Linked DNA regions of Homo sapiens. The protein of the gene in region 1 interacts with the protein of each later gene in a pairwise test. Each region holds a gene or a part of one and is shown on either strand. Other genes may lie near its edges.

Evidence for each region.
Region 2: the proteins of FUNDC2 (region 1) and NSF interact in a two-hybrid assay, tested with the Homo sapiens proteins (one large-scale study listed by BioGRID and IntAct).
Region 3: the proteins of FUNDC2 (region 1) and ARL15 interact in a two-hybrid assay, tested with the Homo sapiens proteins (one large-scale study listed by BioGRID and IntAct).
Region 4: the proteins of FUNDC2 (region 1) and USP13 interact in a two-hybrid assay, tested with the Homo sapiens proteins (one large-scale study listed by BioGRID and IntAct).
Region 5: the proteins of FUNDC2 (region 1) and NUDT21 interact in a two-hybrid assay, tested with the Homo sapiens proteins (one large-scale study listed by BioGRID and IntAct).
Region 6: the proteins of FUNDC2 (region 1) and RGS1 interact in a two-hybrid assay, tested with the Homo sapiens proteins (one large-scale study listed by BioGRID and IntAct).

Annotation. Positions count from the first base shown.
Region 1 is NC_000023.11:155,047,344-155,050,843, forward strand, and holds part of FUNDC2 (FUN14 domain-containing protein 2), read left to right. Parts: intron 1-3,500. UniProt on the Homo sapiens protein: Binds directly and specifically 1,2-Diacyl-sn-glycero-3-phospho-(1'-myo-inositol-3',4',5'-bisphosphate) (PIP3) leading to the recruitment of PIP3 to mitochondria and may play a role in the regulation of the platelet activation via AKT/GSK3B/cGMP signaling pathways.
Region 2 is NC_000017.11:46,639,169-46,642,668, reverse strand, and holds part of NSF (vesicle-fusing ATPase), read right to left. Parts: intron 2,616-3,500; coding exon 2,508-2,615; intron 2,027-2,507; coding exon 1,951-2,026; intron 1-1,950.
Region 3 is NC_000005.10:54,304,074-54,307,573, reverse strand, and holds part of ARL15 (ADP-ribosylation factor-like protein 15), read left to right. Parts: intron 1-3,500.
Region 4 is NC_000003.12:179,740,040-179,743,539, reverse strand, and holds part of USP13 (ubiquitin carboxyl-terminal hydrolase 13), read right to left. Parts: intron 3,294-3,500; coding exon 3,168-3,293; intron 1,344-3,167; coding exon 1,190-1,343; intron 1-1,189. UniProt on the Homo sapiens protein: Deubiquitinase that mediates deubiquitination of target proteins such as BECN1, MITF, SKP2 and USP10 and is involved in various processes such as autophagy, endoplasmic reticulum-associated degradation (ERAD), cell cycle progression or DNA damage response.
Region 5 is NC_000016.10:56,434,333-56,437,832, forward strand, and holds part of NUDT21 (cleavage and polyadenylation specificity factor subunit 5), read right to left. Parts: intron 498-3,500; coding exon 422-497; intron 114-421; coding exon 1-113. UniProt on the Homo sapiens protein: Component of the cleavage factor Im (CFIm) complex that functions as an activator of the pre-mRNA 3'-end cleavage and polyadenylation processing required for the maturation of pre-mRNA into functional mRNAs.
Region 6 is NC_000001.11:192,574,308-192,578,572, reverse strand, and holds the start of RGS1 (regulator of G-protein signaling 1), read right to left. Parts: upstream 2,801-4,265; 5' UTR 2,781-2,800; coding exon 2,644-2,780; intron 2,289-2,643; coding exon 2,208-2,288; intron 1,800-2,207; coding exon 1,738-1,799; intron 352-1,737; coding exon 188-351; intron 1-187. UniProt on the Homo sapiens protein: Regulates G protein-coupled receptor signaling cascades, including signaling downstream of the N-formylpeptide chemoattractant receptors and leukotriene receptors. Inhibits B cell chemotaxis toward CXCL12.

The DNA.
Region 1 (3,500 bases):
CACAGCCGTTTGTCTCTTCCCACAGTTGGCAACCCTCACTTTTGCAAGGTAAGTTCTGCATTAGCACCATGATTGGAGTGAGTTTTGCAGATAGGTCAGGTGAAAATCAAATGTATCGAAGAGGGAAGCTGGTAACTGGCTGTAGCTGGGTTGAGTGTGGTATTGCTGCATGACAAATTCCCCCAAACCTAATGGCTTCAAATAATGATCACTTTATTCTCTCTCATGGTTACAGGAGTTTGGGGAGGGTTAAGGTAGGTGCTTGTGGATCAGAGTCTCATGTGGTTACAGGCCAGATGATCAGAGGGTTAGGGTAGGTCTGGACTTGTGGGGCCTCTTTGTGTCTCTGTCTCTGTTTGTCTTCCCTCCTCCTCTCCTTATTTCCCCCCTGTCCATAGTCTCAGTGCTCTTCCATGTGGTCCCTGTGCCAGTATAGGCTTCCTCACACTACCATGACCTCAGGACTCCCAAGCACAGTTCTGCAGAAACATGGTGCAAGTTGCATCTCCTTTGTTGCCCAAGCCTCACTTTTGTTGGCTGCTTCCCTGTGGGCTTGTTACGTGCTGGCTCTGTTGCTAGACAGGTCAGACTCCCTGCAAGGTGGGGCCCCTCCTCACACCTCTCTCTCCTTCCCCTTGACCCTTCAGGTGGAAGTGCAGTAACATCTCTATCCCTGTGGTTTCCCTTATATGCTGCCCCAAACTTCATAAACATTTTAATATTGCTTTGAAATGTCTTAATTTGAGTGTGTCCTCTGTTTCGTTTTGGGGCCCTGACAGAAATAATTGGTATTGAAAATGTCTCCAGAAAGGCACCTCAAAATGAGATTTTGGGGTTGGATAATTCCAATATTCAAGGGGTACAGGGACACTGCTTTGCTGCAGAGGTGAGACATGGAGAATCTGTGGCAGGCACTCATGTTATCTGTCACCAGGGGAGTGAGAGCAGGAGGCAAGCATAATGTTGGGAGATCAGTTATATCACAAGTTATAGTTTGACATAGGGATCCAGTTTCCTTTTTTCCATACTGATAATTGAGCAGAATTTAGTGAATAATTCTTCCCTTTCCCAACATTTGCAGCATTGTCTCTTTCATATATCAGAACCCATGTATGTGTGGCTGTGACTCTGGTTTCTGTGTTCTGTTCCACTGGTCAACTTTCGATCTTTATGACAGTACTAAAGCTTAATATTTGGTAATGCAAATTCCTCCACCTTATTCTTCAGGAGTGTTGCAGCTACTTTTGTGTTTCTGCTCATTCATCTAAATTTTAGATCAGACTTGTCAGTTATTTTCAAAAATCCTGTTGAAATTTTTATCGGAATTGCATTGGAACCATGTAGATATCTCTTATGATATTGAGTATTCTATCTGTGAACACGGGCTTTCTCTCCAATTATTTAGGTCTTCTTTAATGCCTTTGAATAGACTTTTTATTATTTTTCCGTATAGATCTTGTACATCTGTGATTCAGTTTTATTCCTGGATACCTTATAACTTTAGTTGCTCTTGTGGATGATACGATTTTTAAAACTACACATTCTGATTCATGCTAGTGTGTTGAAATACAGTTGATATTTTATGTTGCTCTTTCAGCCAGCCACCTTGTTAAAAAAGTCTTGTCTGGGATTCTTTTGGGTTTTGTCTATAAAATCTTTTTATGCCATCTGTGAACAGTGAAATTTTTCCTTCACGTCTTTATGAATGTAGTTGCTTTTTCTTACCAAGCTGTAGATCATTTCCAGCACTTTTTGCAGCTTTCAGAGCCCAGCAGCAACGCTTGCCAGTTTTCAGTTTATTCGGCTCCCTCTACTTGTTGTGCTGCAATGGAAGTAGGATGTTGAGCTTTGTCAGTAGAGGGCGCTGGAGGGACCTTGCAGCGGGAGAGGCTGCTTTTCCCAGTTCTGGTGTTGCTTTGCCCCTGCAGTGCAGTCCCCCAGTAATGCCAAGGAGAGCAGGAAGTCACCTCGCAATCCTGGCCTGGGCCACCCAGGGGACTTCACCACCACCATTACTACTTTTGCCCCCTTGTGAAAAATCAGTTTGTTGTAGTTGTCCACGTCCGTTTCTGTACTTTTTATTCTGTTCTGTTGGTCTGTGTGTCTATCTCTTCTTCAGTATGACACACTGTCTTGACTACTGTAGCATTATAGTAAATCTTAAATCAGGTAGTGTGATTTCCCCAACTCTGTTCTTTTTCAGATTCATTTTGGTGATTCCAGTTCCTTTGCCTTTCCATATAAATCTTAGAACCGGCTTATTTATGTATCTATAAGAAATCCTACTGGGATTTGTGATTTGGGATTGCAGTAAATCTATGGATAATTTGGAGAGAACTGGGCATCATTTCTGTGTTGAGTATTCCATTCCATGTACATGATGTGTCTCTCCATTTATTTAGGTTGTCTTTGAGTTCTTTCTTCAGCATTTTGTAGTTCTCAGTATACAGATCCTGTATGTTTTATTTGATTTGTACCTAATATTTAATTATTTTTTGCACCCATTGTTGTAAATCATTTAAACATTTTTCATTTCCAGTTCAAATTGCTAGCATATAGAAATTCAGTTGGTTTTGTGTGAATTTGTGTCCTGTGACCCTGCTAAACTCACTTTTTTAGTCTAGGAGTTTTTGTTTTTTGTTGAAGTCTATGAAATTTTCTATGTAGACAAAGATGTCTATGATTGGAGACAGTTTGACCTCTTCCTTGTGAATCAGGATGCCTCCTAATTCTTTTTCTTGCCTTGTTGTGCTGACTCTGAATTCACTTCTGGTACGATATTTAATAGGAGTGGAGACGGCGGACAGCTTTGCCTTGTTCCCTGCATTCGTTCTTTCACCATTCTGTACAGTGTTAGCTGCAGGGTTTTTTATGTAGATGTTCTTTATCAAGTTGAGGAAGTTCCCCTCTATTGCTCTTTCTCTGAGAGTTTTATCATGAATTTGCGTTGAATTTTGTCAGATGTTTCTTGAGTCCTGCCTTGAGGTTAGGCCAGGCGATACTGCAGGAAAAGCAGGAAACACGCCACCAGTTTGGTGGTGCTTTGAATTCTGGTCTTCTCCAATCTGCACGTCGCTGTTTTTATGTAAGAGCCTTCAAATAGCTAGTCCATGTATTCTCTCAGTTTAATAGCAGGATTTTGTGGGATAAACAGGGTGGAGTAAATGAACCAGAGCCTTCTTTTAGATACAAATGTTGATACTCAACTATGTGGTTGCTGTAAGTAATTTGTTCTTTTTAGTACTAAGTAATATTCTATTGTGTAAATATGATACAATTTGTTTATCCATTCATGTGTTGATAGACTTTTGTGTATTTCCAGTTATAGACTCATAAATAAAGGTACTATGGCTTGATTACTTGTGAAGTTGAACTTTTTCCTTTTTGTGGACACTTTCCTCTGAATTGCCCTTACCCATTTTTAAAGTGAACTTTCTTACTGATCTCTATAAGAAGTTCACTTTTTTGAGTATCAATGTTTTGTTTATGATACACATCAC
Region 2 (3,500 bases), on another chromosome or scaffold:
TAAGCTTATACAGGTAATTGGGCATATAACCCCTCAGCCTAAGGAAATATACTGAACAAGTTTGATGTCTTCTTTGCTTTCTCTTCACTTGGACACAAAAGTCTGAAATCATCCTAAAGACTTCAATGATTACAAAACTCATGTTTAAAAATTCTCAAGAGGACAAAAATTATCTAACTTAAATGTCAGAGTGCCACCTAAAGTAACTCAAGAGAACCACATTTACTATTTCAAACAAAGAATAAATTAAGTACCTTAGTATGCTCTATTATAAACAAAAAATAAAGTAATAATATGGTTTTTATAAAACCAGGGAAGAAAATGTCACATTAAAAAAAGTTTATCCTAAGAAATGCTAAATATTTGAGGTGATATGTTAATTAGGCTGATTTGATCATTCTACAATGTATACATGTATTAAAATATCAAATTGTACCCTATAAATATATACAATTATTATCTGTCAATTAAAAATAAAGTAACGCTTTTTAAAAGTTTATACTAGATGATAATTTTATGGTTAGAGTTTTGAGGCCTTAAGATTTCCTTTGGAAAGCGATGAAAAATATTTTTTTCTTACACTCTACTGCCCTCTTGTGGGCAAAATTTACTGAATGCCAATTAACTACACAATTTTTTTCCCATGGATTACTTAGAAATACCTATGAAAGTTATGCAACTCCCTTGGGATATCTTAACAAAAGGTACACAAAAATAAAATACAAAGAAGTCACTTCATAAATGTACTAGATCAATAACAGGAAAATACATCCTACCTTCATAAAATGACATACAGGCATTAAAAATCATGTTATAGGTGTATATTTAAGATGTTTGAAACATGCTAAGCAAAAAAAGCAAATTACAAAACTATGAAAACAGAACCAAATTTTACAGTGTGTGAATTGTTTTCGAATGCCTATCCATATTTTATAAATAAAATATTTTATAATTAACAAAAAACAATAAGGGGGAATGGTAATTTGTGGACCAGGAAATAAAGGCCACGCACTCAAAGACTGTTAAGTGACCCTGGACATGATGATGTGCAACCAATGAAAACCCTCTACTCTCTAGTAGGGTAGACATCAACATAGTTAAATCAACCAAAAATAAGAATTAATGCCCAGTTAATGTCACATTATTCTGGTGAGTTACTATTCTCAGAGAATAAGCTGCAATTGTTTTAATATGACAAAAATTGTGCTAGAGTACAAGAGTAGGACTGAACCATGAATCTGCTGGGAAGACTTGACCTGCACATTCATCACTTAATCACTAAAAGAAATGATGATGCTATCTCATTTAACACAAAACCAAGTGAGGGGCATTCTACAAAATAACTGACCAGTTCTCAAAGTCATAAAAGACAAAGTCTGAGGAACTGTCAGTGACTGAAGAAAACTCAAAAGACAGAACAACTAAATGCAATATGGGATCCTAAATTAGATCTTGGAACAGAAAAGGACACAATGGAAAAACTGGTGAAATCTCAATAAAATCTGTAGTTTAGTTAGCAGAAATGAAACCATGTTCATTTCTTATCATTGTACTTTTGAAAATGTCAAATAAGACATTAACATCAGGGTAAGCTGGTAAAGGGCATACAGAAATTCTCTGAGCTATTTCTGCAAATCTGTGAACCTAAAATTATCTCAAAATTAAAAGTTAAAAAATTAATTTGTTTCTTATTTTAGTGCAATTTCTAGGAAATTAAAAATTACACATGTGGCTCACACTCTATTTCTATTGGACAAAGTTGATCCAGATGAAGGTTTTAAACGTTTTCATCAGCAAACTGACCAACAGGAAATACCCCATGCTTCTGTGATAAACTCTCTCAAGAGAGATGCCCCTCTTTCCTTTCCCCATTTGGAAATCACTGTAGTTGAGTTACATATAGAAATAGGCCCACTTCATTTCAAATCTTCTAAAAACTGTAAATCTTACCAATAAGATTAAGTGACGAATTTTCTGCTTTTTCAAATGCAACTTGACTGTTTCCAACAACCAGTCCTACTTCAATCTGTAGAGAAAGACAATAATTAGTAGTCTAATAGCAAACTTCTGGACTTCTCAAAGCAAGGCCAAAAGTGAGGGGGAAATGAGGTCTCTCTGGGCAAAGCAAACCTTCCAGACTATCATCTGAGCTACTTTTACTTTTCTCATAACTTTCTTCTACAATTCTTACATGCCTTATTTCCATGCCTATATCTTTCCAATAATGCGTTTCTTATTATTTATTTACAATAAATATCTGCATTCAAGCAAATTATATGTACATATACGTCTACATTTTACATTAATATTAGGTCTGCAAATAAATACATTTTAAGCTATATTTTAATAACAATGATGGCTATGAAAGCAATTTTTTCTCCCTACTATCTTAAAAGGGTACACAATATGAAAAAAATCACTAAGCAACAGATAGGAAAATTATAATCAATCTGCACAAATTACATTATAAAGATGATCTAGTAAAGATGATCAGAAATAAAAGCTACCTTCTGCCTTTTCCCTGTCGCAGGCTCTCCCTTCAGGATGCTAGGATCCATGGCTTCAATGTCCTTCACCAGTAAGCCAAAAAGCTTTTCATTGAAGCTAAAGACAAGCTATGTAGAAAAGAGGTAAGGGGAGAAAAATCACTTCATAATATAATAGTTTGATCCTCAGATCATCACCAATGTTTTTCAAATGCAGAAAACCAGTTTATCTTATATACTCCTCTCCAATCTGCTCCTCAAACAAACTACTCACAGCCAATGAAGAAAAGGGAATTAGCACTTACGATCAGTGTTTACAAAATGACTGCAAAACTCATGTTTAAAATTTCTTCCACATGGATAAAAAATATCTAATTTAAATGTCAGAGTGCCACCTAAAGTAATTCAAGAGTACCACATTTACTATTTCTAACAAAGAATAAAGTTTCTTAGTATTTTATTCAAACACTACAGCCAGTTATATAATATTCACAAACACTCTTGGAAGCAGAAACTACGACTCCATTTTACTAGTGAGGAAGCTGAGATGCAGAAACAGGCTATGCAACAAGGCTCAAAGTCACAGTAAATGAGAGCGCCAGAAGTCAACCCTGGGTCTGTGACTCTACAATTCCTGCTTTTCTATCACTAGTACAAAATGCTTGCCCTACAAGTGCAGAGACAGCTTCTGAATGCTCAATTACTCATTCACCAAATCTTTGCTGAGTCCCTTCTAAAAGTTTGGTCTTCTTCTATGTGCTGGGGTATAATGGTAAATATTACAGGTTGGGCTGTCTGTCCATTCTGCTACTACGAGATACCACAAATGAGAAGAAACAGTTAAGGACAGTGATCTGGAGTAAGATATTTACTTCTTCTCTGAATTACGAAAGATTCTCTTTCATGGATTTACTGACTTCTACATGCTACTGAGTTTTAAATTATTATAAATACCAAAGCATTTTCTATTAAACATTCTCCTAAACATTTTCTATTAGGATACTAAAACTAAAA
Region 3 (3,500 bases), on another chromosome or scaffold:
AAACAAATGTTCTCAGAAGTGACAGTCAAGGTGAGGGACAGGGATAGTACTTTAATATTTAAGACAGGGTTTTATTGATTTCAGTCGAGAGAAAGAATAGAAATTTGCTAATCCTAATCAATTAGATGTATCACCTGGTGCGGTGCCTGACTTGGTTTCTGGCATGTATTAATAGTTAGGGCCCGATATTTTATTTGTTGAATCAGATGAATATGAAATGGAAAGGAAAATTCTGCTTTTTTTCACCAGTTTTTAAACTGAGACAAGATAAAATCTGTTTGGATTAGGTGTTTTGTTCAGGGGAATGCAGAATGTATCCTTTACTCTTAACTTGAAGATGATCAAGATATAATCCTTTTAGCCAGGGTGGCAATTTAAACATAAAAATCTCTGTTTTCCAGTTGATGAGTGAATCTTCCTAGAAGGGCACACAACTTTTCCCCTTTCCATGATGGGGTTTAAAGGCCATGTTTACATCTGCCAAGTCTCTGGGTAAACATTTAGCTGCTGTCCCAACAGGCAGTACCAGCATCTTACTCTTTCTTCTCATAGGTAGAACTAGTAACACAATGTGCAGAGCTTTTTGGATAAGGTAGGAGAAAATAGTCAGGTTAAAATGAAAGAGAAAAACACATTTCTCGAGTTTTCCTGGGAGGTTGGACAAGATCAACTTCTAGATTCCTTTCAGTTCAAAATTTTCTGTCTTGACTCATGTGATGATTGATCTGGAATTAACCTTTTTTCCCTCTGCGCCATCAAAACAACAGTGGTAGAATTGGTTGTACTCTGTGTAATACCTATGATGATTAAATGAGATAGTGGAGGGAAAGCCATTTGTAAACAGTACGTTGCTTTTCAAATATAAAATGTTAACGTATTGTGTGGCTGGGCGAGGTGGCTCACGCCCGTAATCCCAGGACTTTGGGAGGGCAAGACAGGCGGATCACTTGAGGTCAGGAGTTTGAGACCAGCCTGGCTGACATGGAGAAACCCCATCTCCACTTAAAATAGAAAAATTAGCTGGGTGTCGTGGCGCATGCCTGTAATCTCAGCTACTTGGGAGGCTGAGGCAGGAGAATCGCTTGAACCCAGGAGGCAGAGGTTGCAGTGAGATCGCACAACTGCACTCCAGCCTGGGCGACAGAGTGAGACTCCGTCTCAAGACAAAAAAAAAAAAAAAAAGTTAACGTATTGTGATTATGTTGCTGATGTTACTTTTATACCTCCTGTAGAATGACTGTTACTGCTTAGTGGTATTGAAATACCTTTTAAACTAGTCTCAATTTATGGAAATACTGGGAGTTGTAATCAACAAGCAGGAAGTCACAAGACTCTTTTAAGAATCTTTTAAAAGCTACGAAAATAAAACCCATTTGAATAATTTATCTATTCAACAAATATTTATGGAGCCCTTACTTTCTGCATGGCCCTGAAAGTCATGCGGGATGAACCCTCAGCTGTAATATCCTCCTTGACTGCAGGACTGGCAGTCGTGTGGCTCTAGAGGAACCTGTGGCAGGACAGGTTAAGTAAGGCACATAGGGGAGGGGGTAGCTTCTGATGTGCTTCTTTGCTTTCTAGTACATTTCTCTCATTTTGTGTGTTTTATTGTGAACTAAAATATAAACTTAGACTTGAAAATGTGACAAGTAAAAATGGTTGATTAGTCTTGGATGCTAATTGTCAATTAATATTCATTGCATTTGTTTATAGTAGCCTCCACCCTCCCATCCACGGTTTTACTTTTCAAGGTTTCAGTTAACCATGGTCCACCGAGGTCTCAAAATAAGTGAGTAAAGTACAATAAGATATTTTAAGAGAGAGAGAGACCACATTCATATAACTTTTATTACTGTATATTGTTATCATTGTTCACTTTTATTATTAGTTATTATTAATCACTTACTATGCCTAATTTACACATTAAACTTTATCATAGGTGTGTGTGTATAGGAAAAAATATAGTGTGCTCTGTGCTATGTTAGTTAGTTCTATGATAGCTCAGTACTATCTGTGGTTTTAGGTATCCACTGGGACTTGGAATATATCCCCCATGGATGAGGGGAAACTACTGTACCGTGTTGGGGATTTTTTATTTATTTATTTTTTTTTTGTGACAGAGTTTTGCTCTTGTCATGCAGGCTGGAGTGCAATGGGGTGATTCTCCTGTCTCAGCCTCCTAAGTAGCTGGGATTACAGGTGCCCACCACCATGCCCAGCTAATTTTTGTATGTTTAGTAGAGACGGGGTTTCACCATGTTGGCCAGGCTGGTCTCAAACTCCTGACCTCAGGTGATCCACCTGCCTCGACCTCCCAAAGTGCTGGGATTACAGGAGTGAGCCACCGTGCCCTGCCAGTGTTTGGGATTTAATAAGATTAGATTTGATAGGTTAGTTTAATAAGATTTCTTTGTATAGACTGGTGGACTTGACCTATTTAGTTTCTTGGTTATAGGCTGTATCTGCCATCATAAAAATGTATGTCTCAGTGGGGAAGATGTGGTGAGAGAATTGGGTTGATCATCACAAATCTGTCACCATTTGCAGGATAAAAACCAGCTAACTAACCAACAATAGAAACCCATGATGTGCTACAAAGGGTAGAGCCCACAGGCACTATGAAATTGTAAAGGATCCTACTTGAAAAGAGGAGTGAAGGTACATTTGTGATTTCATATTATGTTCAGTTATCTGTGAACTGAACTTCTTTATTGATAAAAAAAAAAGTACATTGTTTCGTTGTTTTTAACCCTGAATATCTATGAACATTGTAAGTTGTATTTATTGTGACTAACTTTAAAGTGATAATGTAGGTCACTTTTTAGTCTAAATGTCGAGTGGATTAGGCAGTCATATTAAATATTCCTTTCTTAATAATTTATAAGATAAAAATTATCTGAGCACAATAAACAGATCTACCATATATGGAGTTCATATAGCAAAAATGTTTTGAGCAAATCCGTACCATTAGGTAGGAACTTTTCTACAAAGGTGTTAAGTCTGGTTCCCAAACTTCTGTGGCTCCAGTCTAACAGTATGAGCCCTAGGAGAGGACACATAGGGACCTTGATTCATGCCCTCCAGGGGCTTGCATTCTGAAAGATGCCAAAGCCACATGCTTGTTGGCATGTGGGCAGTGCTCAGGTCGGGGGTGAGAGGAGATAAGTATATGAGTTATAATCAGGAGGGCAAAATCAGTTAACATTTATTGAACACTTACTCTGTGCCAGTGTTCTAAGTGCTTTGCATGTGTAATAGCATTAAACTGAGGCTCAGGGAGGTTGTGTAATTTCCTCAAGTTCACACAGCTAGCAAGTAGTTGAACTGCGCTTGTGGCCCCAGGGCCCTCCCTCTTCATTGCCTTCCACCTACAAGTAGTTCCCTTGTGCTAGGCAGAGGCTCAGGCAGCTTGGTGTTAAGGCAGTTGGGATGCACTCAAAATTTTTAGTATATTGCTTCTTAAGTAAACAGGTACAGAAAAGTGGTCCTTGACCACTACT
Region 4 (3,500 bases), on another chromosome or scaffold:
TATAGAAAATGAAAATCGTTTCATCTTAAATCATCATAATCATCACTTTCCAACTAACATCATAAACTGACCCACCACCCCCCACACACAAGAAAGAGCAAAAAGGGCCATCCAGGGAACCGCTGAATTTTTTTTTCTTTATTCTCAAAAAAAAAAACAAAAAACAAAAAAACTCCAGGATACATGTGTAGAACGTGCAGGTCTGTTACATAAGTATATGTGTGCCGTGGCGGTTTGCTGCACCTACTGACCTGTCCTCTAAGTTCTCTCCCCTTTCCCCCCACCCACCAACAGGCCTCAGTGTGTGATGTTCCCCTCCCTGTGTCCATATGTTCTCAATGTTCAACTCGCACTTATGAGTGAGAATATGCGGTGTTTGGTTTCTGTTCCTGTGTTAGTTTGCTGAGGATGAGGGCTTCCAGCTTCATCCATGTGCAAAGGACATGATCTCATTCCTTTTCATGGCTGCATAGTGGAATTGCTGAACTTTACAAAAATGACTAGTTCACAGGAGATGCACAATCCAGCAGCTATTTTGTCTTTTTTGCTTCTACGATGTTAATTCGAAGAAATGCCATTTGTCTATTCTGCCTAGGAAGAACCAGCTTAGACTGATGGAAGGAGAAGGCACCAAACATGAGTGCCACATCTCTGCCTCCTTCTCTCTTCCAAAGCCCAGAGACCCTTCTAATGGGCTTTGCTTCTACAAAGAACCCTGACACAATTTATCTCCCAGAAGAGGTGGCTCAAATACTCATGTGCCAAAGCTGGATTATTTCAAGAGACCTCTGCTCGAATGTCTAACTTTAAAAAATGCAGTCCTGATCATTTCCCTCAGACTTTATAGCACAACTTATAAATGACAGTGTTAAAGAATTTTCTACATACATCATTACCAATAATTTTCCCCAAAATTATGCTGACTCCATATTCAGTAGTTGGCCAAATTTATAGGCAGTGACGTAGGTTCCAACCATAACGCCTCCATAAAACCTGTGATGCATTTGATTCTTCTCAAAGGAAAAGTCACATGGGAACTAACAAAGAGATGAAAAGAGATGTGCAAAGCAGACATCACCTGGGCTGGGTCTACTCCTGACACACTTCAGTGACTAAACCATTCTCTCTGATTTGAGGGTTTTCCCATATGAAGACACACAGTACCAATTTCCCGCTTTGGAATTGTTACCCTTGTTGGTTGCCGCCTCCATGGCCACAGGTAACTGCATCAGGTAATCCACCCTCTCCGTGTAGCGGACTTTCCGGGTCTGACAGCACTGAATGCGTTCTTCCACCAAAAAACGAAAAACATCGCTTGGGTTTTCTGAGCCGATGCGGTTCCTCTGAAGGATGGATTGTATCAGGTTAGTAAATGTATGAATATTGAGCCACTAAGACTTAGTAGAAAATGAACTCTAAACCCGGTGTAAACACTTGGCTTTATTAAACATTTCCTCTGGCCATGCCCATTCACCAAAGCACTTTAATAGAAAAACACTGGAATTTATCTAAAGTCCAAAAATGGGGATTGGTAAAATAAAATATAGTTCATCATGGATTACTATTTCAATATTATTAAATTAAAAACCATGGGAGAGAAATTCATGGAATGAGAAGAAAGGAGGAGGAGAAGCCAATCAAAAGAGAAAGGGAAAAAAATAAAGGGCTGCCCTGGAAACATAAAAACATGTACAATATGATTATATAAATACACTCATGTAAATTAGGTACAAATAAAACAGAAATTATGCTCTGTTAACAGATGTGATGATGTGGCAAACATTTAAGTGAAAACACTGCTTACAGAAGAGCATGTAGAGAATTAACATAAGACCTGGAAAGTGATGGGAGGGGCAGATGCCAACCTGTGAACACTGGCTGTTGGCCGGGCACAGTGGCTCATGCCTGTAATCCCAGCACTTTGGGAGGCGGAGGCGGGTGGATCATCTGAGGTCAGGAGTTCGAGACCAGCCTGGCCAACATGGTGAAACCCCGTCTCTACTAAAAATACAAAAAAATTAGCCAGGCATGGTAGTGGGTGCCTATAATCCCAGCTACTCGGGAGGCTTTATTCTAAAAAAAAAAAGTTATCACTAATAAATGATAAACAGAGTTAGAAAAGATCATGGACCTGAGCAGACATGTGAATCAGTAACCCTGAGGCAGACAAGAGAAACCACTGCAGCCTAGTTCTAACAAGGAAACAAACAACAGAAGAATCACTTGAACCTGCAAGGCGGAGGTTGCAGTGGGCCAAGATCGTGCCACTGCACTCCAGCCTGGGCGACAAGAGCAAGACTCTGTCAAAAACAAACAAACAAAAACAAACAAACAAACAAACAAACAAAAAACACTGGCTGGCTGCAGGGCGTGGCATTAAGGGGGATTTTGATGTTCTCCTTTGTGTTTTCTATATTTTCCACAAAGAACACTGTTGTAACCAGGAAAAAAAAAAAAGGCTTTACTCAGGAATTCTCAGTGGCTTTCCAGCTCACACCTGTAATCCCAGCACTTTGGGAGGCCGAGGCGGGTGGATCACAAGGTCAGGAGTTCAAAACCAGCCTGACCAACATGGTGAAACCCCATCTCTACTAAAAATACAAAAATTAGCCGGGCGTGGTGGCAGGCTCCTATAATCCCAGCTACTCAGGAGGCTGAGGCAGTAGAATTGCTTGAACCCAGGAGGCAGAGGTTGCAGTGAGCCAAGATTGTGCCACTGCACTCTAGCCTGGGCAACAGAGCTAGACTCAGTCTCAAAAAAAAAAAAAAAGTTTTTAATGGCATTCGATTCTGATGTAAGCAGACTCATCATCTTTGAGCAGTGGCAGGAGGACACCAAATACCACGCAGGGCTCTTAAGGAACTTTGTCACAAAGACCAGAAAAAAATAAATTGTGAATGGAATAACTGGCAAGCACTCCTATAACACATACAGGTTAAAAGAAGCACAGAGATCCACAAGTGTCTGGAAACTGGAGTGTGAAGAGCAGTCACATCAAGTTGGCTGAGCAGAGAGTTTCCAGGGATCTGATTCTGAACCAGCTTTAACAGGAGAGATTGAAGAAAGAGAGTGGGGAGGCATTCTGATCAAGCCACAGCAGACTGCACTGAGTGGCTCGGCACCCTCTTACAACCCCGCTGAGCATCCGTGAAGACTGACTACTCACCTCTACTAGATTCACCAGGTGCAAGAAGAATTCCTGGGCATCTTGCTGCCTGTTAGAGGAGAATTCCGGGTGGCTCTTGCTTACAAAGGCCTTAAACATGCGCGGAGAGATCCCGTTCTGCTGTGGCTAATGTATAAAAATGAAATGGACTTATGATACTTTCATGCAAATTAACAGCCCTAAGCGGCAAGCAGAGCAGAACCCACCATAAACTCCACTTTCCAGATGAGAAAACTACAGCCCAAAGAAGGTAAATAATGATAGTGGCCAATACTCGCTGGGTGTTTACTATGTGCCAGGCCCTGCACTATGAACCTTATGAAGAACACAGGA
Region 5 (3,500 bases), on another chromosome or scaffold:
GCTCAACAGCTGAGGGAGACTAGAAATGATGGGTCCATATCCTGGTGCATTGTCATACAATTCAAACAATGGTGCAGCTACCAGCTTGTAATTTTTAGGGACTGCAAACAAGGCTAAAATAAAACAGAATTCATTATTATAAGTTATTATATAATCACTGCTTCCATTTCATTTTTAAATTACCAATTTTACATTTAATAAAAAGTGTAAGAAAAAAGATAATTCTCATTAATACATTTTGGTTGTGTCTTTCAAGGTAGATTTCCTAGCCACAGATTTGAAACTAAAAGCATGGTATACATCTTTAGTTTTACAACAAACCCAAAAGTTCAAGGAACTTTGAGAAAACACAAATAGAGGTATCCTTGAAATTATTCTACAGAATTTTTAGATGGCTACCTTTGAAAACAAAATAACTTACCTTTTTCTTGAAGCTGAACCAGAAACAACTTCTTATGTTCCTTAGGCTTTGTAATATGTGCAGGAATATATGGATACTGAAATTACAAATGAATACAACTTTAATATGTATTCCATGGCTTCATTTCTTTACATGTTTACTCCCCAGTATAGTATAAACTGTTGGGAGAAGCATACTACTTTCTGTCCTCTTTACCAGGACTTATCTAACAGATACACTAGTAAATAAATGCTTTAATGCATATAAAATAACAAGCAGTAAACCAGTCAACCATTCGAGATAAAATATGTAGTCACAGGATTTATAGCTTGAGATACTTAAAACATAATGAAGTCCGATTTTAATTAGTATCTTTAATAAAAGCTTTTTTTTGTTTGTTTGTTTTTTAAGACAGAGTTTTGCTCTTGTTGCCTAGGCTGGAGTGCAATGGCGCAATCTCGGCTCACCACAACCTCTGCCTCCCAGGTTCAAGTGATTCTCCTGCCTCAGCCTCCTGAGTAGCTGAGATTACAGGCATGCGCCACCATGCCTGGCTAATTTTGTATTTTTAGTAGAGGCAGGGTTTCTCCAGGCTAGTCTTGAACTCCCGACCTCAGGTGATCCACCTGCTCTGGCCTCCCAAAGTGCTGGGATTACAGGCATCAGCCACCATGCCCAGCCTAAAAGCTGGTTTTTTAAAAATATATATATAGGCTGGGCACAGTGGCTCACGCCTGTAATCGCAGCACTTTGGGAGGCCAAGGCAGGCGGATCATGAGGTCAGGAGATCAAGACCATCCTGGCTAGCACAGTGAAATCCCGTCTCTACTAAAAATACAAAAAATTAGCCAGGCGTGGTGGCGGGCGCCTGTAGTCCCAGCTACTCGGGAGGCTGAGGCAGGAGAATGGCGTGAACCTGGGAGGCAGAGCTTGCAGTGAGCCGAGACTATGCCACTGCACTCCAGCCTGGGCAACAGAGTGAGACTCTGTCTCCCAAAAAAAAAAAAAAATTATATATATATATATATATATATATATATATATATATATATGATCAGTAAGTTAAACAGTCTAGAATCCTGTTGTAGACCTGTTTACATTAAAAATTCAAATATAAGCTGTGAGGCATTTGACAAGATGCTTCTTGCTCCTCCTTCCAGCCCCAACCTCAAACCTCCCCGTATGCCAAGGTGCATGCTTCAGGAATACCAGAAGAGCAGTCTAAGTGAAGTTTTGCCAGATGGGCAAAGCCAAATTACTCGAGGAAACAAATATAAAAATATATATATAATATATATGTATATTTTAGAGAATTTAAAGGGATGAAGAGAATTAGAGAGGGAAGTTGCTACCCGGGAAGGAAAAATTCTGACACAGAACAAAAAAAAAGTCTAAGGGTTATACAATTCTTGTATAAATCTCTCCACAATACATTCAGAAATCTACTTTTGCTGTTGGAGTTGTATCTGAGAGCTGGGGAATTTAAAATTGCTGAAAACAGATATAAGGGGAAAGTGAGATAAAAGCAGAAGCTGCCAAAAGGAGGTATTAGCATCATCCTCAATTTACACAGAATCACATGCTAAGAGAGGCTAAGTATCTTTCCCAAGATTACTCAGCCAAGTTGTGAAGCCAAGATTTAACTGTATCTATTCAACTCTTATCTAATTATAAAAGCCTATGTTATTTCCCACTGTGTTACTCATTGGCACCTAACCAGTATTCCAGTTAGAATAATTATATATCAGAGCCATCCCTAGGGTACAATGAATTGAGGCAATTGTCCCAGGCTTTGGAGGTTCCTTAAACTGTCATGAAAACCAGATACATTAACAGTCACAGAGAAAGTGGCCTGAATAGCACAAGCTAAGAGATCTGTGGATCACATACAATAAAAGTTCCCAAACCATGATCAAACAAAATGAGTAGCATTTCCCCAAATTTCTTCTGCTCAAGGCTACATGTTCCTATTTTTTTAAGCCTTTCTTCTCTGGTCTTAATGTTTAAGTTGACTGTACTTTATACAAAAAGACTGAGATAGGAAGATGATATGCTCCTTTTCCACTGACATCTAACTAATACTCTAGGCTTCCTAAATAAATCAATACACTTACCTTATGTCAAATACCACCAGGGCCAACTCTAGGCCTTACTGAATGAAGAGAACTGTCCTAGGACAGTGGTAGGGGAGATGAGTGAAGATATTCAGAAAAGTTATCTGGAAAACCACTGGGGTCACTACTAAGCATTTTCCAATTAGATCAAGGCATGTTCAGGAAGCCAAAAAAAAGTTTAGAATAACTGTACTATGTATCTTTGAACAAGTAACTTCACTGTTTCCATATGAAATTGTTCTTCCTTAAAGCCAAGATGTGTTCCTGGCAATTCTTAGGTAGTGAACACCAGCATCAGCTTCCACAGCCCCTATCTTCTTGTCCCTCTGCCATACAAGGGAGTCAGAAGCAAGAGAAAAGAACGATCTTTTGCTTGGTTGATATTTTGTGCAATGCTTGACCTGAAACATCTTGTCATGTAAAGGAGCTATAAAGTCATAGGGCTTTTTAATTTGCCTAAAGAATTCAGGATCCAACTTTAAGAAGTTCCACCATTAGCAAAAATAGGAATATTTGAGCATCAGTAACATCATCACTCATTATCATGGATTAAAATATTTCAAATTATTTAAATCCAAAAGGTCATACTGACACTTTAAAGGTCACTGAAACATGCTTTTTGTGTGTGTGTGCCCCACATTACGCTACCTCTGATTTCGGGGCAGCTATGTTTGAAAAGTATCAGAGGGTTCCCTGTTTGCTGCCACTGTCTCAACAAGCACTCAAGACTCAACATGGAAATGCAAGGGAGTTCATGCAACCCTTATCCAATGGGGTATAGGAGTCCCTACATGGTTCCTGGTCCTTAACAGAACAAATCCAGTTGCCCACAGGTGTAAAAAGATCAATAACATGCCCTGTCTTACTTCTGCTGCTTCTGGTCTCTCTCTCCCCTGTATTCTGCTGCTTCCTGGAATCACCTCTCAAACTGCCTGTACCCAAGTCTTGGTCTTACCCTCTCTTTTGAATAAAGTCAAGTCTTTAGA
Region 6 (4,265 bases), on another chromosome or scaffold:
TGTGCTGAAACCCTCACCAATATAGAAAATTAGATTCTCATTGCACTGAACTATATTTATATGCCTAAGTATGTAGAAGTAAAATTATATACCCCAAAAGGATTTTATCTTGTTGTATATATTAAATGTTATTTCTGCATATAGGGTCTTTTATGGAGAAACTGATGATGATAAGCTTAATACTCACTTGTTTAGCAGCATCTGAATGCACAAATGCTTTATATATCTCTTCTGCTTTACAGGGCAAAAGATCAGACTCTGTTTTCTTATAGTCTTCACAAGCCAGCCAGAACTCAATATTCTCCTCACTGAATTCAGACTTTAGGAAACTTCCAAAGACATTTTGACCAGCTAAAAAGAAACGAGGGGTGGGTGGGGAGATAATTAAATTAAATGAACCAACAAATGAATAATTTGAAGAAGAAATTTGTAAGAAAAATACAATTGCTTCCTATTCATACAAAGGTAAGAGACAGCTACTGCTGAAATAGCTGTGTTATAGATTGTAGAGATGAGAAGTCATTTGAAATTTCTTCATTCATAGAAGAGGAATCTGGGGCCAGACAAACTCATTCATAGTCACATTGCTACTTGATGGTGGCTACCAAACTGTTTTGCTTCTATCCGCGGTTTGAATTGAAATTCTGCTCCACTGAATATAAAACCATCTTTTATATATGCCAAATCTTAGCCAGAGTAGAGAGTATTTTAGGAAAGCAAACACTGACAAAAGGCATTAACATCACAATAATTAGTAAATATAATTTCCCCATCTAATTTATATTAGCCAGAAAATGTTAGGCCTATATATGATCTGTAGGCCTGATGTACTAATTATGTTTGCTAGCATTCACTGAGACTTTTATATGGCACCATTTATGGTCCATATCTATACCATTTATTTGTTTAGCTGAATTATAAACAAAGTCAGCTGAGCTAGAGTGAACAATGTGATTCCCAAGTAAAGCTCCTTAGGGTGTCTGTGGGGAGAAAAGAATAATCTCACTCTTTAGAGATAGAGACCACACTGCTCATCTACACCTCTGAAAAAGGTCCTAATCTCAGTAGAATTGTAATGCCCAAGACAAGGGGATGGCAAGCTGATTTCATTCTTTACCTTCTCTCATCAGAAAATCTCCACAAGACTATATGTGCTTAAAAATCCTTCTATCATATTTATGTCATAAAAACTATCATGTTATAATAATGCAATTATTTATGTTATGTATCTCAACCACCTTCAAGGCAGTAAGAGACTGTCTTTGATTTTGAATCCTTGGTACCTCTACAATGTCCTCTACATAAGGGTGAGATGAATGATGAATGTATGAAAGATAATTTAATTAATTGAATGAATGAATCATACTTGTTACATCCAAGTGTAGAAAAATACATTCTTTAGGCAGATTTCAAAATGGCAATGTACATATTAAAATATTTGGCTTACTTTTAAAATTTTTACATATCAGAATCCCAGCACAATGTTTAATTTTATCTCCATAATGATCTATGAAAATACCTAATTGTCTTGGCAAATTTGTCTAAAAGGAGTTGGCAGAATTGAGTGCTAAGTCAGCATTATTAAGAGGCATACTATGCTGAAGTTATCAGTAACTACAGACAAACTAGAATACAACCTTTTGCATACTATCCTACCCAGAATACTATATTTAGTGAAGCCATTCAATTTTTTAGAGTATTTAGCTGAACCCAGAAACATTCAATAGTTATACTTACTTTGGTTGGCAAGAAGTTTTTCCAGAGATTGAGACCATTGCATTACTTCAGCAGCAGAAAGTCTGCAGGGGACAAAATGTACATACATTAGTCAATTTTTAAAATGTAAGCACAAATGAAATAAGAATGGCTGTTACACTTTGATAACTTCACAAACTGAAACTGTAGTTCTAATAAATATGTTAAAATTTATTCACAAAATGCAAAACTTCCCTTAGAGTTACTATAGTTATGAAAAAAAAAACCTGCCAATAAAATTTGAAAAAATCCAAATAGATAAAGTCCAATATGTGTGTGTACACATTTGTATTCAATTTACATTGGTACTGATAGTCTAATTTTATTTGGCATGTTACTTAAAAGAAATGAAGTCTACTGTGCGCAGTATTTATCCCTTGCTGGGATATAGAGATAATGCATAGGCTTCTCTTGTAAATGATAATGATAGTTTAGTGTATTAGTGTACTTACACATCCTTGGACTTGGAAGATTTCATTCCAGATTCCAGATGTGGGATCATAGATCTCAGGTATGCTTTCATATCCATTCCACTACAAAAGACATAAAAGTGAATATTCATATTTCTTCAGAATTCATTTTATTTGTAAAAAGACATAGAATAAATTTCTCTAAGGAATAAGGCAATACTAAAAATGGTTGATACAACATTTTGCTATAGAACCCATTTTTATGAGCCTGTGTAGAGAAAAACTCCTACCCAATTTAATGCCATATCAAGATTTATTTTTTAATGCAGCTGAATATTACTTATTACTCACAACAGGCAATTAACTCCTCTGATCTGGCTAAACTAAATGCTCACACTCTCTTCCATTCATTCTCAATCCTTCTGCCATTAAAGATAACTTGTTAAAATTCACAAAGTGAGACTCTGAACAAACTTACAAAGTCTTTGGCCTCCTTTTTTGCATTTTGTCGTCTAGAAGTGAATGAGTGGTTCCTTTCAATTCCTTTGGGTTAGCAGAGAAGAACATTCCTGGCATTTTGTCTAACTTTGGAGTGGAGATGGCTGCTGCGCGCATGGTGCTCTTAGCAAATATGCGCTAGTCAACGTCTCTGCTGCTTTATATAGTAGAATGCAGACAGGCACTTGCTGTTTAAAGGAGTCTGTTTATCAAGTGATGTTACCACAGACACTGGAAGTTCCCCTTTTCTTGGTGTGCTGTGACGTGTATCTTGAAAAAAAAAAAGCATACAGTGGTGTCTTGTGGTTGAAACTTAACCAAACGAGAACAGGTCACTTGATTAGAAAGAAAGAAAATTAAACATACAGAGGTACACACACATATGTCACATGTCTAAAGCATTAACAGCATCAGTCTTTGGTTCTGGAGGATGTTTGTTTATTTTAAAAAAGTTGCATGTTTCAATAAACTGTTTCATTTGGCGTATTAATTTATCATATAGAAACTCACATAGAAATTCATCACATAGAGTTGTATCTTACTCCATGCTTTGGATAGTCCTTGACTATAAAATTCATCTGATCAAAATATTTTAAGAGTTCTCTTCTTTTCTGCAGGAAGCAGGGCAAAGTAAACAAATAATTTTTGTTTAATTATTTTGCACATATCTGATAGGAGGGAAAGTTATAAGAGGCTATCTTCACATTTTCCCACTCCAATTCTCATCCCTTATTTCCATGGCAGGAAATTTCCATGTTAATATTTTCCAAGGTGTGTGCTAGACATCGACTGGCAATACATAGGATGATTTTAAGGGGTGCATGGTTTTTAATATTATTTTCATATTTATTAAGAATATAACTAGTATATCAAACTTTGATTTTTGCATATTTTGCATATTAGGAAAAAATAAAGTTTAATTAAAACCAATCATAAATAAATAAATGTTTAATTGTATACAAATATGACATAATTTGTAAACATACTGATACCAAGGTCACAGTATCAGAGGAAAAACTGCTCAAGGTAAAATAAAAGTCTATTTGGATAGACCAATAATGTGTACTTCTTAGGTAATGATCTTTCACATTTTGGCAGTATCTCTGGAGAGATAACAGTTTTAGCTTTAATTGAGATTAAAGTTTAAAACACAAACAAAACTCAAGGAACTAGATGACTAATCATTTATAAGGATAGAGAAGTTAGTAAAATATAAGCTTTCAAAAGTTTATATAACAAGTGTGGCTTATTTATAGAGTACCCAGTTTAACTTAAGCCTCCTTGGATTTTACCCCTGGAAGGACAATACTTTCCTTTAAAAGGACAAAAAAGCATTTACTTAGTGAAGCTTCTGATGGTATTAGGTAAAGCTGATAAAAGGGAGGGGAGTATTAATTTTTCTGTTCTGGTTCTATCGTCAGGATAAAGAATATTTGAAGAAAACACATTTACAATATTATAAAATTCACTTATACACAGTCATTAATTTCATTATAATGAGCTCATTATATTGTATGTAACAAGCATCATTTTATGTTGGGAAGATAACATAAGGCATTAAGAAAGATAACTGGTGAGATGAGCTGGCCACTTTGGAAGTGA